5 separate regions of the Homo sapiens genome follow, and regions 1, 2, 3 and 4 are each linked to region 5. Evidence: fine-mapped QTL for protein levels in blood plasma. A gene starts in region 5. Each other region holds a variant in brackets. All regions are shown on one strand. Distances are from middle to middle.

Region 1 (6,562 bases), 17 kb after region 5:
ATCTTCACTCCCTGTGTCTTCTTATGCTTTATTTGGTAAGAGAAGAGGGTGTTCTTCTCTATTTGTTTACTAGAATATTTTCTGCTATCTTTCTACCCCACACCAGGGAAAGAATGGCTATTATTACTTAAAAAAAGATGACCTATCAAAATTAAGTTGTTGTATAGAATGGAAACATAGCTTGTTCCACTGTGATATTTTCGATGAAATGGCTACAAATCACATGTCTGCCCTCGACTAGGGAATGTATTTTCTTTCCAGCTCTTAAAAGCCAACACCAGTTATGGGTAATGTTGAAAACAAATCTATCTATAGCTCAGGGAATCTGAAATGACATTGCACTGATACATGAATTAGTCTGTGTCCCTTAATCTTGACTTTCTTTTTTAAACTTTGCGCATGAAAACTTACCACCAAAACATCAAGAAAAGCATTTTCTCTATTTTCAGCCTTGCTCTGCTCTATACTTTTCTTCTCATCAAGGGTTTGGAATTTTCTGGTTGTCTTTAACCATTTGTTGGGTTAACCCTATTGACTGACAGGCTTCTAGAGCTCGGAGCTGGATAGAAACTGGGGAGTCCTCACCCTTGACCTTGGGGTAAACAGTAGGTGCCTTTTTTTAAAATCTACGTGACTGCTGAGGTTCATAAAGGTTGCCCCCAAAATTGCTGCATTATGAAACGAGATTATAAGATTTAGAGGAAGCATTTGCTCTCTTTTTTTTTTTTTTAAAGAAGGAAGCTTCTAGATCCTCATACCTCAAATCTTACTTCCTTTCTTCTGGGATCCATAAATAATACATCAAATTTCAAGTCCCAAAAAATACCCTAGAGCTCACATAGTGACAGTGTGAAATTGAATGAAACTTGAAAACTATCAGAGCCTTCCTCCCGGGGGAAATCTGCAGTTCAAACTTTATGAGAAGCCTGAGTCCTCACAGCCTGCAGGCTCAAAGCCTGTCTCCAGGATTGTGGAAGGGCTGGATCAAACATCCCCACTTGACCTCTCTCCTCATGCTACCCCCTCAAATGCCCTTTGTCACCTATGTTATCCCAGGGTAGTGACAAATTCAGACATGGATTCAAACTCGGTGCCTCCACTACCAGTGATAAGAATTTGGTGAGTTACCTAAGCTTTGAACCTCAGTTTTCTGCCCTGTGAAGTGGATCTAATAATAGTACTTGTCTTATGGGATTTTGTGGCAATTCAATGAGATACTGCATTTACAAAGCTCTTGGATCAGCGACTGGTGGTTAAACACACAATAAACATTAGCTACTATAATTACTACAGCATTTTAAGTGTTCAGTGTGTACGTCCACATGGACTCTGACCTCCATGAAAAATGGACTGTGCTTTTATCATCTTTGCAGATTCAGCACTGAGCACACTGCTAAATTATTTAATAATAATATCTAATTATTAGGCCTTATTTGCTTCTTGTCTGAGAAGGGAACATGCATTTTTATTCCTGGATGAAAGGTGAAAATAAGGTTTCCTTCTCTCTACTCTCACCCCAGTGGGATTTCTATCTAGAGTGAAAATACTGCCCAACCACTGCTGGCAGCAGTGCCTTACCCAGGTGAAAGCCACAAGCACAGCTGTCTCTGGGTGAAGTCAGGGAGTGGGATTTCAGGGGTGTTGGGAGGGAGCCACTTCTCTCTCCTACCTCCTCCCAAGGCCTCTTCTATGAAGACTGGAAGTTTGCTTGAAGAATCTTGCCTTCTGCATAGGGCTTTATTCAACAGAAGCACTAATTTACTCCAGACTGCGAGTAGATCTTCTGTTCTTTTCCAAGAGATAGATTTATCAGAGGGTTAGAAACACAAATACGGCATTGATGTACTTCAGGGGCACCAAAGAGAGAGTAAATAAGTGATCCAGGGTTTGGGAAATGGTACTGAACAGGGAATCGGAGGAAACCAAGGCAGAGCCATCTGTTTTGGAGTTATGCCTGGGCCTTCCAGAAGGAAGATGAGTTTGGTACAAATACTACATAATCACTGCACTGAGCTCTTGATGGAGCTACCAAGTAGGTGAACCTGGCAATTGCACATGTCCTTTGACCTGGAAGGCAGTAACAATGTGGTTAAGAGTTGGGGCTTGGTGGTCCAATGGCGCTGGGTCTGGTCTGGAGGTAGCTCTGTCTCTGAATGCTTTGCTTCTACTGTGGGACTTCTCTGGAGATACTTTCTTCATAGCATTGGTCAGAAGAAATGATGTCTTGTGGTGATCAAGTCCCATTACTGCCACATAAAAGATGCTAAAAATGACTTTAAGATGGCAGTTCCATTCTCTTCCTTTCACCTCTTTGTGCAAGATGGAAAACGCTATTCCCTCCAACTCCTGCATAAAGCCGCCATCTTGTCCTTTCACAGATTTCCACCATACCATCTTTCCCACTTCTGGGGAAAGCGGCTTGATGATTCACAGTGTCCACATGCACTTTGAAATCTTTATAGCCCCAATAGTCATGTTTATTGGCAGGAAGAGAGATTTGTTGCCCCAATACAAGCACGCAACTTTGAACCCTGGAACCAAGACTTGATTCTCATTTTCTGATGGGTGAGCCAGCTTGTCCTTGTTGGAATAGTGCAGCCTTGTTTGTGTGTGGCTAATGTAGTTTTCACTGGTGTGACTAACTGAAAGACTGCTTGCTGACATGAGTGCAAAGCTGATAAGCAGCAGCTCCACAGAAAGCACTGACCTCACTTAAGCAACCATGGTGGTACCTGGACATCTGTCCTGCACACCCAGTTCTTATGCCCTGCCTTCTAGAGGAGCTGATGGAACAGGAAAAGATGTGGAAAAGGAGTGAAAGGGATGAAGA[C/G]CTCCCAAAGGAAGATAAACTTAGAAAGGAGGAGATGGGCTAGAAGTCTGGCAACATTACTTTGTGAGTTAAGGATGCATTTTCTTGGCCGGGCATGGTTGCTCATGCCTGTAATCCCAGCACTTTGGGAGGCTGAGGCGGGTGGATCACCTGAGGTCAGGAGTTCGAGACCAGCCTGTCCAACATGGTGAAACCCCATTTCTACTAAAAATATAAAAAATTAGTCGGGCATGGTGGGGGGGTGCCTGTAATGCCAGCTATTCAGGAGGCTGAGGCAGGCGAATCGCTTGAACCTGGGAGGCAGATGTTGCAGGGAGCCAAGATCGTGCCACTGCACTCCAGCCTAGGCAACAAAAGTGAAACTCTGTCTCAAAAAAAAAAAAAAAAAAAGCATTTTCTTGCAAGTAACAGGAAATTTGACTTATTTGACTTTAGAGCATTTTAAATAAATAGGGGTTTATTTTCCTCAGATAACAAGAAGTCTGAAGTAGGCAATCCAGGGCAGGTTTAGCAATTCCATGATGTTGCAGAGACTTGGGCTACTTTTCTTTGCTACACCATTTTTTGAGCTGGTTTGTCCTCTCAGGGTTCATCACAGCTGCCCCAACTGCAGACACAAGGTACATTGTCTCAGCAAGAGTCACAGGAAAGGGCAATGGCAGCCACAACTACCCTTTTTTTTAAAATCAGGAATATGGAAGCTTGACCACTGCCAGTGGACTTCCCCTCTCATTTCATGAACCAGAACTGGGCCACTTGGCCACCTTCCTAGCTGCAAGTGAGCCTGGGAAAGGGAACTTGGTTTACCGGTCTCTGTGGTGGGAGGAAGAAAAGGAGAGGGCTTGGCAGTGGCCCAGGGGCAGCAAATCTAAGGCCCTACCACAAATCTGAGAACAGAAGACCAAACTTCAAAGCCCCTGTGTTCTCATTCATTATTGCTTTTTTGCCAGACATCCAGCATCCAACTTAGTCAAGGTTCCCCAGACTGAGGGATCTAGCATAAGACCTTTCTCTGATCACTGGCATATTGATGGCTTTTGGGTATTCCCAGCAGGGAGCAGTTTCCATGGCAAGAGTGTGCTTGCTCTCCCTAAATAACTGGAAAATAAATGGTTTTCCCCCAACCTAGTGGCACCTGGACATCTGTCCTGCATACCCAGTTCAGGGAGTGAGAAGACTTTTTACTCTTTTATTTTTATTGTCTAGCTCCAAAAACCATTGGCTTGCCACATCATGCTTCTGATTTCAATCTCTTTCACCCCTGATTTCCACAAATGGGAGACCCAAAGTCGTGCCCAGGAAGGAGAGAAGGCCAGCGTGGGGATGAGGCACTAAATCCCTGGTCCTAGAGGGTGCCCCAACGTGGCTGCATGACTGGCTGTCCCTTCCCGTGGGTGCCCACTCCATCTGCCTTCAGAGGTGCTGTTGTGGTGAGGGCTACAGTGATGCTCCCCATGTTCTGAGACTGGGAATGGTGGGAGTCACACTCTCATGCACATCTTCAGTGCAGCCTGCCAGTTTTCCCTCCAGGTTGCCTTGGCTGTTTCACCCGCTCTGGTGGGTGCTGGTGCATAGAGGCTGAGAGGGCTGGTTCCAGAGTTGCAGGTTCAAATCTTGCTTCCAGCCACTACCTGGGCAAATAATTTAACCTCTTTGGGTCTTAGTGTCATCACCTGTTAAACAAGGGTAACAATAGTAACTTTCTGCCAGAGTTTTTGTCAGGATTAAATGTGCTTAGGACAGAGCTCCACATGTACTAACTTAGCAAGTGTGAGCCACTCTTCTTACCATCCCAGCCACATTCACTACTACTCCAGTCTTGACTTGGGTGTCTGCAGAGCCTGCTTAGCTTTCAAGTTTAGGGTCTTTGGATTTTGGAACCATTGTGGGGCTACTGCTTAAAGTAAACATTTTGTACTTTTATTTTTTTCTAAATGAATGTAAAGAGCTAATCAAATGTTAAAATAGTAAGCTTTGCTTAAAGTTATAGTTCAAATTCAGATTCAAATTTGGCTAAAACTTACCGTGTAACTGTGCCAAGCAAACTTTGTACTAAATACGTCTATATTTTCTTTCTCCCCCTTATAAATTCAAAACACTAGAGTGCTGGCAATCTGCTGTAAATGTCTTTATAAAATAAAAAGAGTGGAGGGAGGTGTTTTATGAAGCTGGAGTAAAAACATATATAATTTAGAAGACAGTGTGGGATTGTGGAAGACCATGGGCTTTAGTTCAGTTAGGCCTGAGCATGTGTGCTGTGTTAACCTTTTTAAGCTTCATTTGTAATATGGGGATGTTAACATTCTTCTCATAGAGTGATTCTTCTCATCTCACATTCTGCTCAGATGTTTAAGAAAAGCAATGGAAAGGTTTGTAACAAGCTACTTTGACGTGGTAGAGCTTCAACAGCTATTACACTCTTTCCTGTTTTGATCAGATTTCAGCCATGATAGAATCCTATGTTTTGTATATTGGTGCTGGAAGCCCTAATAAAATCAATGAGTGACACAGACACTTCATACAAGATGCTAATTTTCTCTTTCTTTTTTAACAGGCAACTGGATATGGCCAAGAGGGGAAGTTTAGTGGACCCCTGAAACCCATGACATTTTCTATTTATGAAGGCCAAGAACCGAGTCAAATTATATTCCAGGTAAAAGCTACCCTTGATCACTGTCCTCTTGATTTTGTATGCTCTCTTGGTGGACTTTTACTTCCTTATCTATTGTATAGCAGGAAATAAAATAAAGGCATGGCATTCTCATTATCAAGAATGATTTCAGAAGCTAAGTTAAACAGAGAGATGAGTGGCCTCAGTATCATAAGAATTGTACCTGACATTCTATTTGGACTTCCTCAATCATCTCTGGGGCGAGTGCTCCCAGCCCTCTGCAGGGAGCTTGGTGGCTGCAGGCTCTGCCTCTCCCCTAGAGTAGAAAGGGAACCTGTCTCTGGAGAGGGGAATGACCATCCACCCTCGAGGCTGTCTGATCAATGAGCTTGCTGCTTCAAGTACTGGAAGATACGGCTTCTCTGGAGTCAGTGCTAGAATGAGCTTTCTGGCCAGAGGACTGCCTTTTCCTTACCACCTTCTCTGAGCCCCCATGTGGGCCATTGTCAAGGTGCACTGGGAGGTGGACGTTTTATTTAGTTAGATAACCATGAACAGTATCAGATGGAGGGGCAGTCTGCAGGTGGGAATAAGGGAAGGGACCTAAGTCCCATCTTAAGTGCTATTAAAGACACAGAAATAATCCTGGAAATGTAGTGGAGAAGGGGAAAACACTACTGTATTTACCAGACATCCCCTGAGAAAGTCACTTGGCCCTGAAGTGATTGGAGGATGCTGATGAGCCTTCTTGGGGGTGCCCGTGACCCCTCCCCGTCCCCTGAACCAGGGAAGTGGCAGAGGTTGCTGAGCTACCTACCTTCTAAGGCAAGTGCCTTCCATTAACTGCCAAAAATTTACAGACGGCCCTCTGTATCTGTGGGTTCATGCATCAGCAAATTCAACCAACAAAGAATCAAATATATTTGGGAAAAACAATAAAAATGATACAAATTTAAAAATACAGTATAATAATCATTTACATAGCATTTACATGGTATTAGGTATTATAAATAATCTAGAGATGGTTTAATGTATATGGGAGAATGCGAGTAGGTTCCATGACCATAATACACCACTTTATATAAGGGCCTTCAGTATCTGTGGATTTTGGTATCTGCGTG
Region 2 (6,562 bases), 38 kb before region 5:
TGCTCCATCAAACTGTGAAAAGAAATGATGTGGACCTTGCTGGAAACAAAGGCTTAGCAAACAATTTTTGTTCAATGCCCACCAAGACATATAGAATTGGGAACTGATACATGTGTCCCTTATAGGCTCAAAAATTATATCTTACAATTTCTTATTTAGGGGGAAATTATTTGAATCAGATTCTATTTAGTCAAACCACCTTTTATGTTTTATTATTTTTGAATTCATGGAGCCATCATAAAAATATTTTTAAAATCAGAATTATTGATACCCTGTAGTGCAAAATGTCAATTTTTAATGTATAATCAGAAGTCTGAATTTTTATAAAACATATAGCATAAAAACTTCCAGTACTTTGGTTGACCCTTGTATGTCACAGCTCTGCTCTATTTATTATTATTTTGCAAAATAACCATTTTAACATTTGATAAAGCATATTTATGAACATATTTCTTAATAAGAAAAATATCCATTTTATTACCATTTTCTATCTTTTTCAAAATATGCAAGTTTTTACCTATATGTCTTATAATAAAAGAAATAAAATATTTGAAAAAAGGCATTCTTGATTGATTTTCCTCCCCAAACAAGATGATTAGGATTATTTTTATACAGCCTTTAGAGCAAGCACATTCCAAAGAGACATATGCCTATTGTTTTCTTTCTTTTTCTCACTAGCAATAGCCCAGTCATTATCCGTTTTAAAGGATATCCCTGACATCTCTGCTTTGAAATCACGATTCACGGTAATGCAAAGTTGTTTTTGGCTGATACCGTTGGGAAGTATTTGGGGTCATCTCAATGCTGTTATAGGAAAAGCCAGATTGACCTTTTACTTTGGTCTGGCAAATGCCTGACTGAACAGATGGGCTTCACTTTGCTCCCTGGAGGCTGATGGTCTTAAGCTTGACTAAGGCATTAGAGGAAGTTATAAAGGATTAGGGGGAAATAAAATAAAGGAATCTAGTGATTTCCAGCCTGAGATCTAGCCAGGCAAAGCTTTCACCAAATTCTCCTCTCTGACATTAATATGGCTTGACATTAATCACTTGGCATCTATCCAGCGGCCGTATGCAGCCCTTTTGCTGGAATGGAACTTCTGGTGTTCTCCCTTCACATCTTCTCTGGCCCTATATGCACCCTATTTCATTCTCTTCTCCCTAGCTTTTTGAGTTTGTAGTGAGACACACACTGATGGTGACAATCATGGGACTTCAGACATTCCCTAAAGCTACACAGTTGTTGTTTTCTTGAGACGGAGTCACTGTGTCACCCAGGCTGGAGTGCAGTGGCGTGATCTCGGCTCACTGCAACCTCCGCCTTCTGGGTTCAAGCGATTCTCCTGCCACAGCCTCCCAAGTAGCTGGGACTACAGCATGCACCACCACGTCAGGCTAATTTTTGTATTTTTAGTAGAGACAGGGTTTTACCATATTGGCCAGACTGGTCTTAAACTCTTGACCTCAGGTGATCCGCCTGCCTCGGCCTCCCAAAGTGCTGGGATTACAGCCACAAGCTATCACGCCTGGCCTTAAAGCCACGCAGTTTTAAAGGGTGTCTGCTCTGTTTTCATTGCCCTTTCTCCCCTTTTTCCAAGTTGAGCACAAAGGTTCCCATCTCTCTGCACTTTGCATCTTAGAATTGCTCAAGGCAATAGCATGGGGAGATGATACAAGTAAAGATTCAGGTTACATAGATCTGGGGTGAATTTTGGCTGTGGAATTTAGCAACATGGCTTTGGAGTAAAGGTTAAAGGTTTCTAGCTATCAGTTTTCTCATCTACCAAATGGGATTGCTAATAATACCCACTTGGTAAGGTTAACATCTTTGTGAGATTAACATCTTTTAACCTGCCATACAGTAAAGAGCTCAAGAGATCTTCCTTTTCATGGTTGCACATTTTCCATTCCGTATCATTTAGAGTTAGTTTTACATGTCTGTTTCCCCTAATTTGAATGGAAACTCCTTTGAATCAGGGACCACCACTCTGTTCCTCCTTACCCTTCTACTCATCAGTGCAGCGCACTGCATATACTGGGATTTTACGAACTTTCTTCTTGAGCTTCATAGATCCTCCCAACACCTATGTGAGGTCAATAGGCCATCTCACAGCAAACCAGTTCAGGTGGATAAATGACTTGTCCAAGTTTGTTCAGATGCTAAGTGTCTGAGCTAGGACTGAGGTCCACCTGTGACTCCTGGTCACTTGTATATTCTTATCTCCAAAACTTTCCTATAAACACAGCCTGTTTCATCCCCAGGTATCATCCTATACACAGAATACACAGACACACACACACACACACAAAATGCATATATATTCTTTACACTATTTTTCTCACAATCTCAAGCTTCCTCATCACTTCTTTTAGACCTTCCCAACCAAATGGCCAACAGATGCCAAGGCTCCAGGTTTAAGGGTATGTTCAAGGTTGTCATGATCACATTCCCTTGGCTTGAAGCAGGGCAGGATAATGCCGGCTGCAATCCAATCCAAGAGGATTTTTGGTTAAGAGCTTTAGCTCCAGGGTTAGACAAACCTGGGTTTCAATCTGGTTTCATCACTTACTGGATGTGTGGCCAAGAGTCAAGTTCTTTACTATCTCATAGCCTCAGTTTTCCCATCTGTAACATGGGAAGAATGCCCACCTCATAGGGTTGTGGTAAGGATTATGTGAGACCTGCAA[A/G]AGTTATGTCATCATCTCAGGGACAGCACTGACTCTGCCTGCTCTAGTGCAGCATCCACACCTTCACACATTCATGCATTCTTCAAATATTATTGGACACCCAGGTGCTAACAGCTGCTGGGAATATAATGATGGCTAAGATATTATCCTCATCCTCAGAGATCTCAAGAGTAATAAATTTGTCCTGAAAAGCCAAAGGAGGTAGCACTGGTGATAGGAAGAAAATAAAGAAATTGTGAGAGGATTATACCAGGAAGGGACTCAATTTTTATTCATTAGATAAAATTCAAATGATGAAAACGTTTGTTAAGATGATTGAGTTAGATGTGGAAAAGAAAATTGGGCCATTTAAAAAATTCCAGTTGGGAAAAGTGGGAGCATTGGGGAAAGGTGAGTTTTTAAGCATCCTACATTTTTGCTTACAAATACATGAACTATTCAATGCAGAGAAAGATGCAGATGATTCTAAATTCACTTGGGCAAATTTGTGGAGCTCCGGCTTAAGAAAAGTACTGTGGAGAACACATGGTGGGAGGAGGCAGTTTTGCCTTTAAGGTGCTTGTAATATAGTTAACAGTGGCAGGAAGCAGATGTAGTAGGGAATGGAGACAACTGCACAGAAACCTAGAACGTGAGGTTGAAGATAATATGGGCCATCGGAGACATGTGCTGTAAGGCAGTTTAGCTTTGGTGGAAGAAAAATCCTTTGCTTGGCGTTGCAGTAATGAATGTCTTTTTTTTTCTTTTTCTTTTTCTTTTTTTTTTTTTTTGAGACAGAATCATGCTCTGTTGCCCAGGCTGGAGTGCAGTGGCATGATCTCAGCTCACTGCAACCTCCACCTCCTGGGTTCAAGCAATTCTCCTGCCTCAGCCTCTGAGTGGTTGGGATTACAGGTAGGTGCCAACACGCCCGGCTAATTTTTGTATTTTTTGGTAGAGACGGGGTTTCACTGTGTTGGCCAGGCTGATCTCGAACTCTTGGCCTCAAGTGATCTGCCTGCCTTGGCCTCCCAAAGTGCAGAAATTACAGGCGTGAGCCACTGCACTGGCCCATGGATGTCTTCTTAGAGGAAGTGATGTTGAGCTTCATCTTGAAGACTACACAAGATTTCCACAGGTAGGATTGGTTGAAAGGAAGAAAAAGGGAAAAACTGGCCTATGTAAAGAAAATAGCATGAGCAATGACAGAGAGGCAGGAAAGGGAGAAATCTATATAGAAAAATGAGAGAAGTCCAATTTGGCCGGGAGCTTTCTGGGAGGCGTTAAGTGAAGGTGTTAATGTATGATGCTTGATAGCCTGAGAGATTTAGTTTCAAATTCTTACTTGTTGGGTGTAGTGGGTTAAACAGTCTTCCCCCAGAATTTGTGTCCACTTGAACCTCAGAATGTGACTTTATTGGGAAATAGGGTCTGTGCAGATGTACTAGTTAAGGATCTCAGAACGAAATCATCCTGGATTAAGGGTGAACCTTAATTCCAATATGTGGTGCCTTTATAAGAGAAAGAAGAGAGATTTTGACACAGAGGGGACACAGAGGGAAGAAGGCCATGCAGAGATTGGGGTTGCAATGCCAAGGAATGTTTACAAGCACCAGAGCTGAAGAGACAAGGAAGGATCTTCCTCTAACTCCTTCAGAGGATGCATGGCCCCGCCAACATCAAGATTTTTGGATTTCTATACTCTAGAACTGGAAGAGGATACATTTCTGTTATTTTAAGTCATCGAGTTTATGGTAATATCAGCAGCCCCAAGAAACTAAATACATTGGGTTACTTAGGGCAAGTCAATCTTAATGTGCCTCAATTTCTTCATCTGAAAAACAAGGATAATAACACACATCTTATAGGAATATCATTAGGATGAAATGTAAAGCACTTAACTTATCAATTTATTGTTTGCCCAAGAGGTGGAGAGCGAGTGAACTGTAAGGGTAAGTTGGGAAGCAATTGTAGAAGACATTGAGTTCCAAACTGAGAAATTTGGACTTGGCTTGGAAGGTAATGCAGCTGCTTGAATATTTCTAAACACGGGTGTGACAGATTAGAGTGGTGCTGCTTCAGGACATCGCCCAGAAGGGCTGAGCCTGGCAGGAACCGAGTCATGAGACCCACCCAGGGAGACCAATGAGGAAGCCACCGCAACGCTGGGACTCTCGTCCGAATCAGGAGAATTGCTTGAACCCAGGAGGTGGAGGTTGCAGTGAGCTGAGATTGTGCCACTGCACTCCAGCCTGGGCAACAGAGCAAGATTCTGTCTCAAAAAAAGAAAGAAAGAAAAAGAAAAAAGAAGACATTCATTACTGCAACAGCCAAGCAAAGGAGTAGTGAGTAAGGCATTTCAGGCAGAAGGAAGGAAGTCCTTCGTCAGGGGCAGCCTCAGCCCAGCATGTGCATTTGCTGTGCTTATTGGACTTAGCACACGTGTCCAGCAGCATTCAAGGTTTTCTGTGAGAAGTGCACATAAAGTGGTGAGGCCTGATGCCCACAATAGCCAGAGAGCAACACAAAATGACAGCAGGAGAGAAAGGGAGCCGTTCTGGCCAGACACAAGCCCTGGCCAAGGCCCTGGTGACAAGATTGCGCTGGAGTAAGATATGGAGTCCAGTCGTGTGACTGGATAGGAGACAGCCACAAAACGACAAGAGACTCTACCCAACCATCAGTAAATCATCCAGTCCAACCCTGGGGAAATGAGGAAGTAAATATTATCCACCTGTTTTTCTTGTCATGCAGCTAGGGAAAAAATAACATATGCAAACCAAGGACATGAGGTTTTTAGCGAAGGAACATACAGGTGATCGTGTGTATGCATGCACGTATGCGTGTGTGTGTGTGTGCATGCACGTATGCGCGTGTGTGTGCATGCACGTATGCGTGTGTGTGTGTGCATGCACATATGCGTGTGTGTGTGTGTGTGTGCATGCGCGTGCACGTGTTGGGGAATAGGGTAGAGGTGGGAGAGAGGGGGCTCACAGCTAAAGGAAAAGTAGAGTACTACAATTAGTAAAACAAATATCAATGAGACTCTTGTCTTGCTCCGCTCTTCAATACATATATTCCAAAAATGGGTATGCTGTCAGTCTTATTTATTTATTCCAGCATCTACCAAGGAAGGTGAGTATCCTAGAGCATGCCCTTTCTGGAACTCAGGACAAGTAATTGTTATTTCAGTTTTACTGGGATCATGCTCAAATAAAACAAAAATGTTCTTGTATCTTCTGTTGTATTAACGTTTTAAACCACTCCATTGGAAGTAGAGAAACTACCCCCTTACTGTCAGGCTTCTGGAAAAGTAAAAATGCAGGAGGACTGAGAAGTACTCTTGCTAGTATCACTCAGAGGCCCCAAGGCAGTTGCTTGACTTGGAGAAATTACCGTGTGGATAATTTGAGATAGCTTTGGAGAACACTTTCTTGAAAGGTATTTGCAATTTTATTTGCATATACATACATACCTATTATGCATATACATGTGTGTATGCACTCAGATATATATACACACACATTACATACACAATTTTTTTTTTTTGAGACAGAGTCTCTGTCGCCTAGGCTGGAGGGCAGTGACGCCATCTTGGCTCACTGCAAGCTGCTCCTCCCGGGTTCATGCCATTCTCCTGCCTCAGCCTCCCGAGTAGCTGGGACTACAGGCGCCCACCACCACGCCCTGCTAATTTTCTTTTTTTTTGTATTTTTAGTAGAGACGGGGTTTCACCGTGTTAGCCAGGATGGTCTCGATGTCCTGACCTTGTGATCCGCCTGCCTCGGCCTCCCAAAGTGCTGGGATTACAGGCATGAGCCACTGCACTCAGCCGACATACACATTTAAGCCAGTCTTGATTAAAGGTAGGGAATAATTGCAGTGCAGATGGCAGC
Region 3 (6,562 bases), 47 kb after region 5:
AGGAACTGCCCAAGGTAGCCCATGAAGGAAATAAGTGACTCAGTGGAGGGAGAGAACAGGTACTGCTTTCTGGAAGAGGTATTTCTGAGCTGGGCTTTGAAGGATGAATATGACAAGTTACAAAATCATGTAGGACTTATGGGAGAGTGGGAATCCATGTGGAAATACATGAGGACCTGGAGCAATTTGAAGATAGAGTTTAAAGTGGGAATCAGATTACAAATTGTTTATTTGCATGAGTACGTCTATAGAAAATATGGACCAGATTATAAAATATATTAAAATACATGTGTGTGTTGATATAACTAAACATTCAACTGTGCACTACAGAAAACTAGAGACTAGGCTATAATTAACACAGTTTTACATAAAACCAGGGAAGGCCTTTTACCCAGAAAGGCCCACTGCTGGTCAAACGAGGTGTGTGCAGAGCAGTGAGCCAGTGGGTTCTGGGTCTGGGACCACTCCAGTCTTCAGCCATTCTTGTTGTCTACAAACGTTCTGAGGACCAGCCTTAACTTCAATCAATATCCACTTGGTTGTAATTGGATTGTTAATAGATTCTGTCCCTGGGATCATGTCCAGTGCATTGAGCACCAGCTCTAGAGTTAAACTACCTGGGAATATTAGTCAGGATCCCAGCAGGAAGTGGAGACTCCCCTCAAAGAGTTGAAAGAAGGGATTGTTTGCAAAGGTTGTGGGCAGGGTTAAGGGAAACCAACAGGAGGTGTGAAGCACAGTAAGCAGCATTTTCTGCCCTAAAACCTGAAGGAGCCAGGGAGGGGAGCATCCCCCAAAGGAGCAAGGCCTGTGCCTGTCACTAGAAGAGGGCTGTTGGCAACGGGGGCGTGACACCCCCAGCTACACTCTTCCTGTCCTCCCTCCAGTCTCTTGCCACGCCTCTCAGTGGCAGAACCCAACTGTTACCCTCAGGGTGAGGATGTACATTGATGCAGTTCATAAGGTCAGCCCCTTGGGCTACAGAGCACAGACAGAGGAATGGATGGTGGCTGCAGAGGGCAAAGGGAACCTCTGGGTTTGAATCCTGGCTCCATCACTAGTTAGTTGTGTGACCCTGGTTAGGTTACCTGAACTTCTCTATTCCCTGGCTTCCTCATCTGTTAATTAAATGGGAATGACAGTAGCACCTACAACATGAAGTTATCATGAAGATGAATGAGTAACTCGGGTAAACAATACAGTTGCTGCTATATAGAGGCCGCTAACAACTGTATTATGATGAAAACATCTGTTCTGTTATTCACAGTTTACAGATAAATTGAGTGAGGCACCCAAGCTCTCACATACATGCTAAGTGGCAGAGCCAGAGTCCAAACAGTGAATTCCAAGCCCAGAGTCTTAACCATTATACAGTGCAGTGCACCATGGTTAGAACAACAGCAACCCAACAAAGAACCTGTCATTTTATCTCTTGTTCTCTCTCCCCCAGGCATCCTGTCCCCACCTGCACTCCACACACATCTGGAATCTAGCTGAAGTGGCTGTGTGCCTAGGTCTTGGAATTGTGAAACCCATCCCTGAAAGCCTGGGTGATTTCTCCAGGGTTCCAGGAGCTACCTCTGTCCCCACCTTGCTTCCTGCAGGCTGGGTAGCCAGACTCTTGTGAACAGGCCAATGGTGGTAGTTCCTCCCTTATTTAGATAGAAGAGAGCAGGCCCTTGGACCTCACCATCATAGTAGTCAGAGCAGATGTAGGTTGGATGTGTTCAGAGAAGGAGAGACAGCCACTGGGATGCTCACAGAAGGCTTTCTGGAAGGACAGTTTTGCTCTGGACTTTGAAGATTACATAAGTTTCACTAGTCAGAAAAAGACTGCTTCACAAAAGGAAGCCATCCTGCTCAGGAACAAACCTTACCTAACTTTACTTAGGAGGACAGCAGGTGGACGGCAATGAAAAACCTAGAAAAATCTCTCTTAGATCTGTCTTTAGCCACCCTGCCCCACACTTGGTGACCACTTGGGTACAGGTGGGAAACAGAGAGCCCACTCTCTGCACAAATTGCATGTCAATTGCAAAATTGTGGCTATGGCTGTCACTTCACTTGCCAAGTATTTTCTTGCAGATTTCTGATATTAATGCATGGTTTTCAGTGAAAATTTCTATGACATATGACTTTGGTTTTCAGATTTCAAGACCCTTTGTTTTGTGCAAATCAACGTTATTGATATCAATGATCAGATCCCCATCTTTGAAAAATCAGATGTGAGTAGTTGTCATTATTTGTTTTTTCTTTACTTTATTCATTTTACTTCACCCTTTCTTCTGGGATAGAGACACAGACAGTAGCTAGGAAAAGTGCCAGACTTAACAGGTAACCTTGGTCAGTGCACAAATAACCCAGATGCCATCTTCAGTGGAACTTTTTGGGGAACAATAACATTTACTATTACAGGTGTCTGGGAACATTCATTTATAAACTCCTGCCAATAGCTCATTTATTCCAAGGGCTGCTTAAAAACAACAACCACAATCTTTGTCAAATTGAAAAAAGGTGAATGGCGGCTTACAGTTTGTCATTATATATTTTTTTGTGTTAGGACAATAAATAGATTTACTGCTAGGTCTCAAGCATTTTTAGCCAAAAATTTAATATTTGGAATATTGGCGATTTAATTTGTAATAATTGGGTAAGAGAAAGGGAGAAGAAAAAAATTAATCTCTGACTTAAGCCAAAGAAAAATGTGCCCAAGACATTTGAGAGAATTAGAACTGGACAGAAAGAAAAAAGTCAATTTAGAACCTCAAGAAAAATGCAAATTACTGTTTTCTTGTCATCGATAGGGCGTTCAGACTTGGTGATGACTTTATCATTGTTTCCCTAAGGAGGGAAGTCTCTATTTTGAAGGAGCAAGAAGCCTATTTGACTAGACTGTTATGTTATTTTTGAAGTCAGTTATGAGGCAGCCCAGAGCCCTGTGATGATGTTCATAAATCAAAATAGGGACAAGCCTGCAACAAAGAAGGGAATTGATTTATGAGGGGGCTAGGGGTGGGAAGAGGTGTGAGTGGATATGTCTTGTATAACAGGCACTGAGGTTCAGCAGGCATCAAATAACCCATTTCTTCTCAGCCTCCATTCTCTTGGGCTTTTGATCCTTTCCTAACTTTGTGACCTCCTCGCCTTTTATCGAGACAGTGTTTTTTAGATTGAGGGTAAGAATCCTGCACTTGAGGTCTCAGAGCTTAAATACTAATCTGGCTACAGAGAGTGAACCTGCTTGTTTCAATGCTGTGGTCCTCTCTTCTGAGACCTACTTATAACCTTCTTTAGGATCATGATGCCAAGAGAGATAATCTGGGGGATTTTCAGTGGAGTGGGAGATGGTCTAGGCCAGTGTTCAAGAGCATAGGCTTTGGAGTTGCACAAACATGGCTTTGAATCCCAATCCCTTTGACCCACTAGCTGTGTGACCCTTGGTGGGTTTTACTTCTCCAAGCCTTTGCTCCTCGTAAGTGGAGATGGTAACATAACTACTCCGTAAGGTGTTTTGTTGATTTT[C/T]TTTATTGAGCACTTACTATGTGCCAAGAATTTAGGAGCTTTACATGCATTGTCTCCCTTAACACCCACAGCAAACATGAAGTAGGTTCTATTACTATTGTCTCCATTGGACAGATGATGAAACTGACACTTAAAGAAGTGAAGTAACTTGCTTCAAGCCACTCAACTAATAAGAAGCAAGCCTACAATTCATATTCAGGCTGTTTAACTCCAAAGTTCAAGCTTTTAATCAACCTCTATTCATTGGTTGATTTAAGAATTAATTAAATAATGTATATAAAGTGCCTACCACCTGATAGATACTCAATACATGGTGGCTATTTATATCATTACTACTACAATAATTAAGTTATTAAACAAATTGGATATGGGAGGGGGAATTTGTTTTAGAATCCTACCAGTAGCTCTCTGAGGTATTGCGTTCTTTGGTACAATGGATATCAGCTCATGAGTATGACTGATGTTAAAATCAACTGCAATATATTCATCAATAGGAAAAAACATGCCCCATGAAGATTGATGCAAACTATGACTTGTGTCTATTCTGAAACCAGAGAGATAAGTTTGTCCTTTGGCTTTGATGACAGCAGACCTTCTCATTGTTTCCTTCTCCATTTTCTCCTTAGTATGGAAACCTGACTCTTGCTGAAGACACAAACATTGGGTCCACCATCTTAACCATCCAGGCCACTGATGCTGATGAGCCATTTACTGGGAGTTCTAAAATTCTGTATCATATCATAAAGGGAGACAGTGAGGGACGCCTGGGGGTTGACACAGATCCCCATACCAACACCGGATATGTCATAATTAAAAAGGTAAATAGCCCATTTATTTAATAGAATTTGTCTTTGTTTGTGGGTTAATTTACTAATGACAGTGTGAAGACCTATAAGCAGAGGTGATGTATTAGCAGCCATCTCTCAGGCATGGTGATGGGTTCCTGGATTCCTGGATTCCTCTTAGTCGTTCCTGTCTTCCTGACAGACGGGAAGTCAGGATTCTAGACCTGGCTCTGTTGCTAGCTAGCCAAGTAACTTTTGCAGGGAGGTAACGTCATATAAAATATATAAAATGCAGGATGAACAATTTTTTAGTATAAGTGTGTTCTATGCAATATTTGGGATGCACTTATACTAAAAACTTGTTTGTCATTTATCTGAACTTCAAATCGAACTTGGTGTTCTATGTTTTTATTTGCTATTTGCTAAATCTCGCAACACTCTTACGGTCTGGGAGTGGCACTCAGGGTCTCGCTTTCACTTCCCCCTTTGCAAATGTGAGGAGTTGGGTTGGATGACCCCATGGGCCTTTTAGGCTGTAAACCCTTTATTCTAATGTGCCAGGCAGAGATACCTTTTGAATAATGCAACTGCTGGGTCTCCTTCCAAGGTTTAATAGACAAGTGTCTTTTTAATCCCCCTCTCCGCTGCTTTACTTTCACCTTTTACTGTATTGCTAAGCCCACGGGCTCTCATTCTGTCTCTCCCTCTGTAAGGACTGGATAATCTGGAGTCAAAGTCTTAATTACCTTGGTTCCTGTCTCTTTGTACAGGATTCTCCCAACCCTCCCTCAATCTACTCCTGTCCCCTGCCATGTATACCTGAATCTTGACTCTTTTCTCTGTGGCTGCCTCATCTGTGTTTAGAGCATGTCATGGGTTTACCAGATGACTCAATTGGAAGCAGCACTCAATGCCGTCCAATGTACTTACAGTTAAGATACTTTCCTAGGAAAGAGAGTGAAACCTCGCTGTTAAAAAGGGCCAGAGAGAATCTGCAAGGGTGGCTAATTGTTTAAGGTTTGCAGTGCAGTGTGCTGGAAGCTGCAAAGGAAAGCTCTGGAGTACAGTTTTGAGCCAGAATAAAAGAAAACTGAAAGAGGCTAAAAATGAAGACAAAATAGAATAATTTCACAGAAAATGGACAGAAGCACAGAGAAAAAAGCACTAGTGCTGAAGCAAGCCCTAGGACAGAGCCTTGGAATTGTGATCCTACTGTTACCAAACATTCCAGCTTGAACCAAGGGCCCTGCTGCATTTCAGCAGAGAGGTTGCTGTGGACCAGCTCAAAGCCTTAGCCTTGTGTGTGAGTCTGACATTTGGAAAAGGTACCATGACAACCTCCCCTTGTGCTCACAGCAGTCTGCATGGAGAGAGAATACCACAGAAAGAAAGGATAAAGGAAAGGGCAGTTTTCAGAGCTTGCAGTGGGTTGGTGTGTTCCTTTGCAGGTGACGGGGGCAGCTTCCTTTTATCCTTTTGCAGGACCAGAGCTCTCTAGGAATCTAAGGGAAGATAGAGGCCCATCCATCCCAGTATGAACAAGGCCCGTATGTCATATTTTTTTGAACAGCAGTTTAACTTGGCCATTTGTGGTTAATGGGCCCTTTTAGGGAGATGTTGGCACCTATCTCAATGATTAGCTGTGGGTGAGAGCTGTAAGTATCCTCCCTCACAACTTGACACGAGAGGTATGCTACAGTAGAGTAGGCCTCTGACCAAACTCTTTGTCACATCCTTACTTTATATGTGGTTCTATTTCAAGTGTCTATTATGTCTCCTGGCATATATTAGAGGTTCAATAAATATTGCTTGACTTAATGAATAAATGAATTCTGTCCCATATACAATTATGAACAAGCAGACACATAAGTGATCATCGAACCTGTGCTTTAGGCCTGTGACATCCCAGCTCTCTGTCCCTTGGGCACTGTGATAACTGTCCTTGAGCAAGTGGATTTGTTCAACCATCCAGAGGCAGGTGATAACTGGCAGAACAGAACTGAGCCCTGGAACTCTGCAGGGTACAATCTGCTGGCCAGGCCAGATATCTATACTCCTGTTCACAATGACTAAGGGATACACTATACTCGTAACCAAACAGCACATCTTTTTTTGAGACAGATGCAGTGCCGCAGTCATAGCTCATTGCAGCCTCAACCTCTTGGGCTAGAGCAATCCTCCCACCTCAGCCTCCTAAGTAGCTGGGACCACAGGTGTGTGCCACCACACCCAGCTAATTTTTTATTTTTGTAGAG
Region 4 (6,562 bases), 78 kb after region 5:
TGAGTGAAGTCCCATTCACAATTGCTGCAAAGAGAATAAAATACCTAGGAATCCAACTTACAAGGGATGTGAAGGACCTCTTCAAGGAGAACTATAAACCACTGCTCAACGAAGTAACGGAGGACACAAACAAATGGAAGAACATTCCATGCTCGTGGACAGGAAGAATCAATGTCGTGAAAATGGCCATACTGCCCAAGGTAATTCATAGATTCAATGCCATCCCCTTCAAGCTACCAATGACCTTCTTCACAGAATTAGAAAAAACTGTAAAGTTCATATGGAACCAAAAAAGAGCCCGCATTGCCAAGACAATCCTAAGCAAAAAGAACAATGCTGGAGGTGTCACACTACCTGACTTCAAACTATACTACAAGGCTACAGTAACCAAAACAGCATGGTACTGGTACCAAAACAGATATATAGACCAATGGAACAGAACAGAGACCTCAGAAATAACACCACACATGTACAATCATGTGATCTTTGACAAACCGGAGAAAAACAAGCAATGGGGAAAGGATTCCCTATTTAATAAATGGTGCTGGGAAAACTGGCTAGGCATATGTAGAAAGCTGAAACTGGATCCATTCCTTACACCTTACACAAAAATTAATTCAAGATGGATTAAAGACTTAAATGTTAGACCTAAAACCATAAAATCCCTAGAAGAAAACCGAGGCAATACCATTCAGAAGACAGGCGTGGGCAAGGACTTCATGACTAAAACACCAAAAGCAATGGCAACAAAAGACAAACTTGACAAATGGGATCTAATTAAACTAAAGAGCTTCTGCACAGCAAAAGAAACTACCATCAGAGTGAACAGGCAACATACAGAATGGAAGAACATTTCTGCAATCTACCCATCTGACAAAGGGCTAATATCCAGAATCTACAAAGAACTCAAACAAATTTACAAGAAAAAAACGACCCCATCAAAAAGTGGGCAACAGATATGAACAGACACTTCTCAAAAGACATTTATGCAGCTAACAGACACATCAACATGATCATCACTGGTCATCAGAGAAATGCAAATCAAAACCACAATGAGATACCATCTCACACCAGTTAGAAGGGTGATCATTAAAAAGTCAGGAAACAACAGTTGCAGGAGAGGATGTGGAGAAATAGGAACACTTTTACACTGTTGGTGGGAGTGTAAATTAGTTCAACCATTGTGGAAGACAGTGTGGTGATTCCTCAAGGATACAGAACCTGAAAGACCATTTGACCCAGCAATTCCATTACTGGGTATATACCCAAAGGATTATAAACCATGCTACTATAAAGACACGTGCACACGTATGTTTATTGTGGCACTATTCACAAGAGCAAAGACTTGGAACCAACCAAAATGTCCATCAATGATAGACTGGATTAAGAAAATGTGGCACATATACACCATGGAATATTATGCAGCCATAAAAAAGGATGAGTCCATGTCCTTTGCAGGGACATGGATGAAGCTGGAAACCATCATTCTCAGCAAACTATCACAAGGACATAACACCAAACACTGCATGTTCTCACTCATAGGTGGGAATTGAACAATGAGAACACTTGGTCACAGGGCGGGGAACATCACACACCAGAGCCTGTCAGGGGGTGGGGGTCTGGGGGAGGATAGCATTAGGAGAAATACCTAATGTAAATGACGAGTTGATGAGTACAGCAAATCAACATGACACATGTATACCTACGTATCAAACCTGCACATTAAGTTCTAGGGTACATGTGCACAAAGTATTAAAAAAAACCACACAGGGTCAAACCTAAAAGATGACCCATGATAAAAAAAAAAATGGCTTTGAACTATAGTGCTGAAGTGCTATCTAGAATTCCTAAGCACAGGAAGGCTGTGATGTGTGCCTTACAGGGAAAAATTGTGGTTTGGGACACAAATTAAAAGTAATGTCCAAAACTGCAATTATTTTCCACCAACCTAAATATGTGTGTTTGATAAGCTTTGTTCAGGAAGTTCTAGTGCTGTTAGATGTGAGTTAAATGTTAGAATGAACAATATATGTTAAATAAGATATCTTTGAACAGCAACACACAAAAAGCAAGGTTATGTATTGATCAGTTGGGGAAAATATGACTAGAAGCTCACAGAAACCTAACCCTGTCTTTCCTCTAGGAGCAATGGTTCAGCATTCATTAATTCAGTGTTTGGGGCAACTTTATAGAGCATAAGTGCTACAAATGATAATTGACTATATTTAGTATAAATTTCTACAGAGAAATCATGAATTAAGAACTTAAAGGATGCTTTAGCCCTTTCTTACCTTATGGGAAGATACATGTGGAATGATGTGGATGATACTTTGGGCAGTTTAACTCATATCTAGCCATGTTCCAGTCAACCTTAGTATGTGATACAAAATGAGCTTTATTCCTGCTAATCCAGGGTCTGAAGTTGTATTTTCATTTTTTTTTCCTGTCCTGGCAGGTACTCATGCCCGACTGTCTACCAGGCACACAGAGTTTGAGGAGAGGG[A/C]GTATGTCGTCTTGATCCGCATCAATGATGGGGGTCGGCCACCCTTGGAAGGCATTGTTTCTTTACCAGGTAGATATTCTGCTATAGGCAACTCAGGCTAGTATCTGTCACCATGGGCCGTTTGAGGAGATTCTTGTCTTTGATATGGGATTCTGCAACTATTCACTTGAGAATTTATCCTACCAAATACTGTCCTGCTTTTCAGTTACATTCTGCAGTTGTGTGGAAGGAAGTTGTTTCCGGCCAGCAGGTCACCAGACTGGGATACCCACTGTGGGCATGGCAGTTGGTATACTGCTGACCACCCTTCTGGTGATTGGTGAGTGTAATTTCTTAATTCAAAGAGTCTTATCCTGGGCCTCAGAAATGTGAGCTCATCTCAGGGCCTGTCTTCCTGGACTGGTCTGGTGGCTGCTCAAATGGCAACTCAGGCAATAGCCCAGAAGGTAGATCACCAGCAAATTACATCAGACTTTCTTGATTGGAGTTACAGCTTTAGTACTACCCTCTGTCTCTATTGCCTTATTAGTTTAGAAATATAAGGGGCTTTATGGTCATCAATTGTCATATATTATGCCTAGTTACAAAGCTTTTGTGATAAAGAGGGAAGAAATGCAGTAGCTGTGCCATGTGTCAGGCACTGTGCTTGATGGGGAAAGAGTGACATACACAGATCCTACACCAGAGTTTATGGTCTCACCTGCCATTGTTGTTACAGGCAGAAGTTAGCCTTCCAGTGGCGATGCTGAGATATCTGAAATGTGTAGTGCAGAACTTCCCTATGCATAGAACCCTGATTCTTTACTACCCAGAATAACCCATTGCATCATGACCACAGCCTCTGCCATAGCCCCTTGCTTGGCTAGACAGTACAGTCCCCTGATCTAGCTGTCTTTTTCTTTTTTGCAAACAACTCAGTGCCTATTCCAAGTGTTTCCTTACCCAAAATGCTTGAGAGCAGAAGTGTTTCAGATTTTGGGTTTTTTCCAGATTTTTGAACATTTGCAAATACACGATGAGATATCTTGGGGATGAGACCCAAGTCTCAACACAAAATTCACGTGATTCATAAACATTTTATACACGTAGTCTGAAGGTATTTCATACAATATTTTAAATAATATTGTGTATGAAACAAAGTTTTGCCTGCAACCTGTCACATGAGGTCAGGTGTAGAATTTTATGCTTGTGACATCAAGTTGGTACCCCAAAAGTTTCAGATTTGAGATTTTCAGATTAAGGATACTCAACCTATATAGTAATTGCCCTCTTTCAACTGTTGTCCCCACCACAAGTTAAACATTAGGAATAGATACTTCATTATTTCATGTGTACCTGAGTGAAGGGGTTTATGGTTTCATATCCTTTTTCTTTTAAAAGAAGGACTAGGATTATTCTAAGTATTATTGATTGTTCTCTCAGCATCTGATCTTTTCTCCCATGATCCAGTGTGTCACACTGGACTCTGATTCATGCATCTAAAGGGGGTCTCACTTCTTTATACCCTTCAGTCTGGACTCCCTATGGCATGGGAGGGCCTTCATGTCATGGCCACTTCCCATCCTAATGTGTGCATGGTGATCATCTTTCCTCCCTGAGAACCACTATCTACTGCACACTTTTCATGGTAATTGAGCTGTCTTTTTGAGGTCCCACTCACTTACATAGGTCCCTTCTGCCTCTGTGCCTTTTCTTATTCTATTTGCCCTCCCACCTTGAAAGGATTTTTGAATTTACAAATCAGATAGCAATTTTCTTAACGTATCAATTTAATTCCATAATCTTACCACAAGTTAAAGACTGCTTGAGTTTGGGGACATCCAGAAATAGAAGTAATAGGATTTTACAGTTTCATGACCTTATTTTCAAGATAGGGTTGGAATTATAAGTTTCTGAGCATCCAGACTTTTCTGCCATGATTCCTCCTATAAACTTACTAGCAGGTTAATTTCCTTAAAACAACTCCTTCTTCATAGTGGACTCTGACAGTACACAATCAGTGCTGAGCTGCACAGTGTAATTTTGATGTATCAGGTGGGAGAAACCAAGAAGGTTAAGTAGTCTACCCAGGGTCCCACAACAACATAGGCAGGATCCAGGAGGAAGGCGCCCAAGGAAATGCGATAGTTGGTATGGACACGATGAAAATCAGCTTCAGGGAGGTGAACAGGTCAGAGAACAGCTTTCTAGTTGTGCTAATTGGATTGTTTTCTCTAGGAAAGGGGAAGAATAGAATCAATATTAAGTATATATAAAGTTCAGGAACTTTGTCAGGTGCTTATACACTCTATAGTGTGGGACATATACACTCCATAGTGTGGAACATTAGGTCCTATATTCTTACAGCGAGATCCAGTGAGAGCCACCAAGTCAGCTATGATTTGGGACTTGATACATACATACAACAGGATAAATGATAAGCTCATTTCTCCAAGAAGGCCAACGACTAGAGTCCCTTATTCACTAGGACAGTGAAATTTTGTTGAATCACATACAAAAATGAAGTTGAGTCATTTTTTTCCTACCACAATACTACTTTATAACTGAATGTGACAGTACATTTTAAAAGGTCCCATTTATTTGACCCTGGGTTTTTTCTTTTAGGTATAATTTTAGCAGTTGTGTTTATCCGCATAAAGAAGGATAAAGGCAAAGATAATGTTGAAAGTGCTCAAGCATCTGAAGTCAAACCTCTGAGAAGCTGAATTTGAAAAGGAATGTTTGAATTTATATAGCAAGTGCTATTTCAGCAACAACCATCTCATCCTATTACTTTTCATCTAACGTGCATTATAATTTTTTAAACAGATATTCCCTCTTGTCCTTTAATATTTGCTAAATATTTCTTTTTTGAGGTGGAGTCTTGCTCTGTCGCCCAGGCTGGAGTACAGTGGTGTGATCCCAGCTCACTGCAACCTCCGCCTCCTGGGTTCACATGATTCTCCTGCCTCAGCTTCCTAAGTAGCTGGGTTTACAGGCACCCACCACCATGCCCAGCTAATTTTTGTATTTTTAATAGAGACGGGGTTTCGCCATTTGGCCAGGCTGGTCTTGAACTCCTGACGTCAAGTGATCTGCCTGCCTTGGTCTCCCAATACAGGCATGAACCACTGCACCCACCTACTTAGATATTTCATGTGCTATAGACATTAGAGAGATTTTTCATTTTTCCATGACATTTTTCCTCTCTGCAAATGGCTTAGCTACTTGTGTTTTTCCCTTTTGGGGCAAGACAGACTCATTAAATATTCTGTACATTTTTTCTTTATCAAGGAGATATATCAGTGTTGTCTCATAGAACTGCCTGGATTCCATTTATGTTTTTTCTGATTCCATCCTGTGTCCCCTTCATCCTTGACTCCTTTGGTATTTCACTGAATTTCAAACATTTGTCAGAGAAGAAAAACGTGAGGACTCAGGAAAAATAAATAAATAAAAGAACAGCCTTTTCCCTTAGTATTAACAGAAATGTTTCTGTGTCATTAACCATCTTTAATCAATGTGACATGTTGCTCTTTGGCTGAAATTCTTCAACTTGGAAATGACACAGACCCACAGAAGGTGTTCAAACACAACCTACTCTGCAAACCTTGGTAAAGGAACCAGTCAGCTGGCCAGATTTCCTCACTACCTGCCATGCATACATGCTGCGCATGTTTTCTTCATTCGTATGTTAGTAAAGTTTTGGTTATTATATATTTAACATGTGGAAGAAAACAAGACATGAAAAGAGTGGTGACAAATCAAGAATAAACACTGGTTGTAGTCAGTTTTGTTTGTTGATCCGCTCTGCCTCTGTTTTTATTTGTGGAGGGGAAGGACAGAATAACAATTGTTATTTTTTGTGTATAAAAATTGCCTCCCCAGCAGCCCTAGTCAGGGGCTTATAGATAAAACTCCCATCTCCCTAGACAGAGCACTTGGGGGAAGGGGTGGCTGTGGGCACAGCTTCAGCAGATTTAAATGTTCCTGCTTGCTGGCTCCGAAGACAACAGCTAATCCTGACAAGGAGGATTCTCCCAGCACAGCACTCGAACTCTGCTAAGGGACAGACTGCCT
Region 5 (6,562 bases):
GTGGTGGGCACCTGTAATCCCAGCTACATGGGAGGCTGAGGCAGGAGAATCACTTGAAACTGGGAGGCGGAGGTTGCAGTGAGCTGAGATTGTGCCATTGCACTCCAGCCTTGGGGACATCAAGACTCCATCTCAAAAAATAAATAAAATAAAATAAAAAAGAATATAAATATTAGAAATGTAACATGCTTTGACTTTTAGGAATAATTCCAAGTTTTCATAACTTTTTTGTCTGGGAGGCTATCTAGACTTTCTTACAAATGTCCATAAATTAATTACTTATTTATGGACATTTGTATTTTCTAGGGATAATATTGGAGGAATGCTTAAAACATTATAGACAAAAGCGTTGAAATGTTTTCACCACCATGAAGCTGTGAGTTGAAAGCATTAGCCCAAGTCCTTTCACTTGTTCAGTTTTGTTTTCTTTTTTTTTTTTTTTTTTGAGATGCAGTCTTGCTCTGTCGGCTAGGCTGGAGTGCAGTGGTGCAATCTCGGCTCAATGCAACCTCCACCTCCCAGGTTCAAATGATTCTCCTGAGTCAGCCTCCTGAGTAGCTGGGATTACAGGCACCTGCCACCACACCTGGCTAATTTTTGCATTTTTAGTAGAGATGAGGTTTCACCATGTTGGACAGGCTGGTCTCAAACTCCTGACCTCAGGTAATCTGCCTGCCTCAGCCTCCCAAAGTGCTGGGATTACAGGTGTGAGCCACTGCGCCTGGCCTTCAGTTGTTTTCATCCTATAAATCATACCTCCTTTGCTTTGGAAAATTAAATCAGTAATATTTATCAATTACATTTTCCTTATTCCTATTATTAGCAAGTCTATTGAACCAGCAATGTCTCACTTTTCATGAAAATGAGTTCCTAAAATGCAGTGGTGGCTACCTGAAACGTGCACATTCTTAACATTTGGATTTAATCTGGAAGGATGTCTAAACCATGTAAGGAATATATGAACAGCTCTCAGAATCTTGTTAACCTGGTATCCCACAGTACAGAAATAGCTTCTGTAATTCAGAAATGCAATAATCACCTGTTAATTTCTCTGATGGGTGGTTTAGGCATTTTCAGTGTTTAATTAACCTAATTCTTTGAGCTGGAAGCTGGGGGCTAGAGATAGCAAGTGATGTACAGAGGAACCCCATTTCGGAACTTGGCCATCTTCCAACAGGAATGGGCTCATGCAGGGATTTCTGCCCTTGGACTTTTTTTTTTTTTTTTTTTTTTTTTTTTACTCGCATAAAGCTGGAAGGAAAAAAATCTGGCAGAGTCTATAGCTGTAGTGAATAGGATGGGATTTGAATCAGAACAGGGTTGCAGTCCCGATTCTGTAGTCAAAGGCTGTGTGACTTAGACAAGAAATAAAACCTCTCTGTGTCCCCATTTTCTGTCTATAAACTGGAATCTACTTTGCAGACATGCTAAATGAGAAAACAGAATTTTAATTGATATACCAACATGTCACGATCATTGTTATTGTTGCTGAAAAACAATGACTATAAATGATACATATGCACTTTATTTTTGAAAAAAAAAAACTCATAAATTTAAAAGCACTTTATTATTTTAAAATTTTCAAAGAAGACCCAAACTTCTTTATGAACAATGCTGTGTGATGAGATGCTTGCCCTTGATTCCAGGAACTGAAACATGTGGCAAGTGGAAGCGATTTGATTTTGTAGAACAAGCACACTTTATTCAGCTAATGGGAGGGCAGAGGTGTGAAGAATGTGAGAAGTGCTTAGCCTCAATAACCTCATTCTTCTAAATGAGTGATGCTGGCTGTGGGACAAAGCAAGAAGGGCCTTTGCTGAACCCACCAGTCCACCAAGGATGTTAACAGCTGGCATGCAACTAGATGGTTTCACTTGCAGGGTCCTCAGGATAAATGAGGTCTATTCCCACAGTGGCTTAGAGCACTCATGAAACCTTCTCATGAAATCTGGAAAGGAGGGAGCCCTTCTAGAGAGTGGGCTGGGCTCTCTTGCTTTCCCTCTGTCAGATGCACACCTGGAGAGGAATGGAAAACACAACCTCAGCTCAGGAGAAGCCAAGAAATGAACATGAGAAGGTCCACAGAAACAGGGCCAAGTGTAACACACCAGACACAGACATGACATTGATGCTCACCTTCAGTGTGGATTCCCAGAGTGACCAAAGTGTGGAAATCAGGAATTGGTCTAAAAGAAGCCTTGACTTGAGAAATCTGGGGGCATTGGCTTTTATTGGTTAATCAAAAACCTCATTTTGATTGGGGAAAAATAAGTTGTTCCTAGGTAAATCCATTCCCTGAATTGTGGGGGGGAAAAAAGGACTTGGTTTGTGTTTGGGGGAAATTTGCTATCGGTTGTTTCTTGCAGACTTTGGAAGGGACCCTTGGATTTCAAAAGCAGGCACAGCCATATTGTGTCTTTCCTCATGTCTTCTGAGTCATTTATGATATCTCATGTGGCTGGTTATCAATGAACTGTGTCATTGCTCAGACATGGCGCCCCTGCTCCGTCTTTTGTGTTTGAGATGGAATCTACATAAATATTTGCTGATCAAGTCTCCTGTGCTAAGTGTTGGGGGTACAAAATATGGAAAGTCTTTGATGTCATGAACCTCACACTCTAGAGATAGTTGGATACACAAAAACTTTTCCACTCTAACTTCTTGTCTTTTCATTGACTCATCTACATTGAAAAATGTAGCAACCTGTTTTGAGATGGATTAGATGTAAGTTAAACTTCTTTTGATACAAAGTCATTTCTTTCCTGGAGTAAAAGTAATGACACTTTTTATGATACCCAGTGGCTCTCGAAGAGCAATAAAAAATGTTAATGGTTAATGTTTGACTGAAGCTGAAGGGAGAGGCTGGGAGGCAAAGCAGGGAAGAGGGAGTGTTCCCGGGGGAGATACTCCAGTCGTAGCAAGAGTCTCGACCACTGAATGGAAGAAAAGGACTTTTAACCACCATTTTGTGACTTACAGAAAGGTAAGGGCTGACATGTCTTAACTGTGTCAGTAACGTATTTATTCCAGAAGGACAAAGTAGATGGAGGGGGAGGGCACTTAAAAAGTTGCTTGACAAATTTGTTCCTTGAGGTGGGCTATGCAGATGCGGAGAAGGGAAATTTGTTGCTGGCATGACAAGTTTTGCTTATGGAGCACAATTTTTTTTTGTAGTTTCTTTTCATTGGTCCATATTTTATAAATTCATTTGATGAAGTGGCTGCAGTGAAATCAAGCTTGGCAGTGGAATTAAAGGGGAAATTGAGTTCTCTGATGTTTAAACAAGTATCACATCCATTCTTTGTGATGAGTATATAAAAGTCCCTGGTCTTAAGATGCTCTAGGGCTCTTGTATTCTAGAAATTGGGGTTGGAATCACATTCTCAAAAAGCATGTCATTCTATCTACTTCTCAGAGAATGAGATTCAATTTGGGATTCTTAGAATTGTCTAGGACACAGCAAGGGAGGGAACATGCAGAGAAGAAGAAAAGTCTTTTTGTAAAAGTACTAGAATAAGAATTGAAGACAGACAGACCTGCCTTCACAAGTGAGAGAAGAGGCTGATGTGCGTGTTAATCAGCTTCCTGGGCTGCTTTTGGCCTTGGTGGTGGAGTTACCACCTGCTAATGTGTGGTTATTTTTATGTTAAGCCACACACAGCTTATTGGTATCTTCAATGGTCCGATATTTGCCTCTGTCTTGGTCTTTTATGACAGGTGACTTTATAGGGACAGATGCCCTCTGTGGTAGGGGATGCCAAGCAGCAGATTGGAAGGACAGTGCCTTCTCTAATATTTTCTTGTCTTTATTTTTCTTCAAAAGCTTAAATAGCAAATGAGGCATTATTTGAAAGAAGAAGAAAAAACACATGTTTAGATGAAAGGAAGATGAATGCTATTCAGCTCTCACCAGGAAACAAAGCGAGTCCTTTACTGAGAGAGGGTTTCTAGTGAGTTACGGGGCCATATGAGTCTTCAGGGTTGGCCAAATGGGTTAGGCCAGTTTCATCATTTTCCAACCTGTGGGCACAGAACAGAGAGCTGCCACTAGAGACTTGCCTAACTAGGTAGTTGTGAGAAGTAAATTAGATAAGTAGGTAAAGAGCTTACTATGTTGCTTGGTGCATGGTACACATCCAGTGAATGTTAGCGCTCTGTTCCATGAGAAAGTTCAAGTAGGTGACTCAGGATGAATTGAGAAATTTTTGTTTCATTCTTTAGAAAAATAAGAAAAAAATCAGTGATGCCATAAAAATAGCATCTACCATTATGCAAGAGAGGAACTAATTCTATGTTCAGGAAGTAGGATTCAAAAATATGAGAATAATAAAACTATTGGTTTTGCTATATATATAGCATTTTAAAGCCCCTCTCATGGTTCCCATATAAGTCTTTGGGTGAGGTGCAGGTGGGGCATCCTTTGAAACTCACCCAGATGACCCCTGAAAAAAGTCATCACTGTTCAAGGTGAAGGTTACATTTCCGGTACCTCCTCCTTTCTCATACAAAAGGCAAAATATGGCTGGGTGTGGTGGGTCATTCCTGTAATTCCAGTACTTTGAGAAGCTGAGGAGGGAGAACCGCTTGTGCTGGAGTTCAAGACCAGCCTGGAAGGTCTGAACATAGGGAGATCCAGACTGTACAAGAAAATTAAAAATTAGCCAGGCATGATGGCACTTACCTATAGTCCTAGCGACTTGGGAGGCTGAGGTGAGAGGATTCCTTAAGCCCAGGAGGTTGAGGCTGCAGTGAGTCATGATTGTGCCACTGCATTCCAGCCTGGGTGACAGAGTGAGAACCTGTCTCAAAAAAAAAAAAAAAAAAAATCTGGATGATGTGCAAAATATATCCTGGCAGAAACTCTACTTCTCGTTCCATTGTCAAAAAAAATGTCTAGAAGGATGTGTCCCTCATTTTTCTTCCACATTAACAGCAACAGCTCTGAGGAGGAAAGCTGGGCATTGTCATGCTCCTTGCTCTGGAGGCCGACAAACAGTGCTTGAACAGAAGCTGGTTCACATGGGTAGAGATGTATAGATTTGACATAAAATTGCATTGATTCAGAAATCTCTGGTATCAGATTTAGAATGGGGCTAGTTGTTCTGTAACTGCTCGTTGATTATCCAAAGAAAGACACACGGAATTTTAAGGGAATACCTATCTACTTATTTGTTACTTGTAAGAACAGACAGGAAGAAGAAGGAATGTTTACTTAGGTACAAGAAATATTAACTTAATAAAAGCAGATATTCCCCTAGTGGCTGAGGTATTAACTACACTAAAGTTGATTTTTTTTTTTCACTTAAGCAATACGTAACAAGCTAAGCTATGCTTGATTTTTGTGTATGTGGTACAAAGAAAATTTCTCTTCAAATATTCTGTAAGACTGACATGGAATTCTCTCATTCATGATATTTCTGAGTTATTCATTTTTGACCATATACTTATTACTTAAAAATATTAGGACTTGTTCTTAAGTGACGGATGAGGAGAATGGAAATGGTAGATTTGTTCCCTTAACATCTAAGCTAAAGATGAGTTCTCTTCCTCACCAAGAGGCCATCTAGCAGAGTGGCTTGGTGCTTGGCCCCTGCATTCACACCACTTCCTCAAGCGCTCTAAGCATCAGTTTCCTGCTCTGTGGGATAACAACAGGACCCACATTATATGATTGTGTTGTTCAAGTAAGTTGTCCAAAGTGTTTAACTTAGCTTGCATTTGTTGAGCATTTGCTATTTTTTAAAACAATTCCAATGATTAAAAAAAAAAACAATTCATGAATGAGATTTCATCGTGGTCTGGCACCTTTTATTAAGCAGAATTAAATTTATTTTCCCTTCCTCTCCTACCCATCCCAGTTGTCAGTTACGATTTAATTACAGAAATTGGAAAGTGAACCTGCCATACTTAAGCATGACTGCACATTCTTGGCATTAAAATTCCTGCCTTGGGTCACTTTGCAAATGAACTGGTATTAGAGTATTTTTCTTTCTCTTCTCTTCTCTTTTCTTTCTTTCTTTCGATCCTTCAGTGTCTAAATCCTATGGGATGGAACCTAATTTAGATTTACTTCCTACTGAATTTCTAAGGCCAGGATGTGTTGCTTTATTATCTTGACAAAATGCTCATCCGTAAACTTTATATTACATAAAGAAATGTTGTGTAATACATAAAGAAACACTTTGTCAAAAAAAAGTCAAGCCACCCTTTATGAGAAATAGTGATTCCAGTCCTCCTCTTTAGTCCAGGGAAGATGCTTGTGATATTGTTCTGCTAGATCTGGGGGAGAAAGGGTCTCCCCCTGCCACCTTCTAGGGTTTTTGCGGGTATATAGCTGCACACGTGAGGGAAGTCAATGCTGAAATTCTTCCTGGCTACCTGCTTAAAACCCATTTATGCCTAGTGTTCCATTATTGGAACACTAAGCATGTGGGAGTTATTTATATCCTTCTGCACAAGGTCATCGTCAAGGTCTGATTGCAAAAATTCAAAAAATTGCAACCTCAGGTATAAATGGGTTACAACATCAGGCAAGTGCCCTGGTGGGACAGTCACTGTTGTC

Which allele goes with the higher level. Positions count from the first base shown, and alleles are read on the strand shown. Strength reflects both the effect of a copy and how common the allele is. Not every link is listed here.
For the plasma level of the protein whose gene starts at base 2,911 in region 5, G is the low allele of the variant in region 2 and A is the other (weak association).
For the plasma level of the protein whose gene starts at base 2,911 in region 5, allele A in region 4 goes with a higher level than allele C (strong association).

The links. PIP is the posterior inclusion probability: the model's chance that the variant is causal. Protein levels are from antibody-based Olink assays in UK Biobank. Linkage for the fine-mapping came from a reference panel and not from the study's own genotypes, which makes the PIPs less certain.
Region 1: its variant is fine-mapped to the plasma level of the CDH17 protein (UK Biobank, PIP 0.98).
Region 2: its variant is fine-mapped to the plasma level of the CDH17 protein (UK Biobank, PIP above 0.99).
Region 3: its variant is fine-mapped to the plasma level of the CDH17 protein (UK Biobank, PIP above 0.99).
Region 4: its variant is fine-mapped to the plasma level of the CDH17 protein (UK Biobank, PIP above 0.99). The variant lies in the coding sequence of CDH17. If it changes the protein, the assay may bind it differently, which can mimic a change of level.

Annotation. Positions count from the first base shown.
Region 1 is chr8:94,188,108-94,194,669 of GRCh38, reverse strand. CDH17 (cadherin 17) reads left to right here. Exons shown (of 18, transcript NM_004063.4): 2 at 1-35; 3 at 5,385-5,483. Among named protein-coding and RNA genes, the nearest start is that of CDH17, 17 kb to the left of the region's middle. The variant C/G (reference allele first, on the strand shown) is at 2,831.
Region 2 is chr8:94,243,249-94,249,810 of GRCh38, reverse strand. GEM (GTP binding protein overexpressed in skeletal muscle) reads left to right here. Exons shown (of 5, transcript NM_005261.4): 5 at 1-558. Among named protein-coding and RNA genes, the nearest start is that of GEM, 16 kb to the left of the region's middle. The variant A/G (reference allele first, on the strand shown) is at 2,688.
Region 3 is chr8:94,157,749-94,164,310 of GRCh38, reverse strand. CDH17 (cadherin 17) reads left to right here. Exons shown (of 18, transcript NM_004063.4): 11 at 2,149-2,225; 12 at 4,149-4,340. All of the region lies in intron 1 of LOC105375647 (a long non-coding RNA gene), which reads right to left. Among named protein-coding and RNA genes, the nearest start is that of CDH17, 48 kb to the left of the region's middle. The variant C/T (reference allele first, on the strand shown) is at 3,523.
Region 4 is chr8:94,126,886-94,133,447 of GRCh38, reverse strand. It overlaps CDH17 (cadherin 17), which reads left to right. Exons shown (of 18, transcript NM_004063.4): 16 at 2,456-2,572; 17 at 2,709-2,822; 18 at 5,108-6,286. The coding sequence ends at 5,208. Among named protein-coding and RNA genes, the nearest start is that of CDH17, 78 kb to the left of the region's middle. The variant A/C (reference allele first, on the strand shown) is at 2,504.
Region 5 is chr8:94,204,904-94,211,465 of GRCh38, reverse strand. It overlaps CDH17 (cadherin 17), which reads left to right and starts at 2,911. Exons shown (of 18, transcript NM_004063.4): 1 at 2,911-2,983. RefSeq lists an enhancer at 4,185-5,384.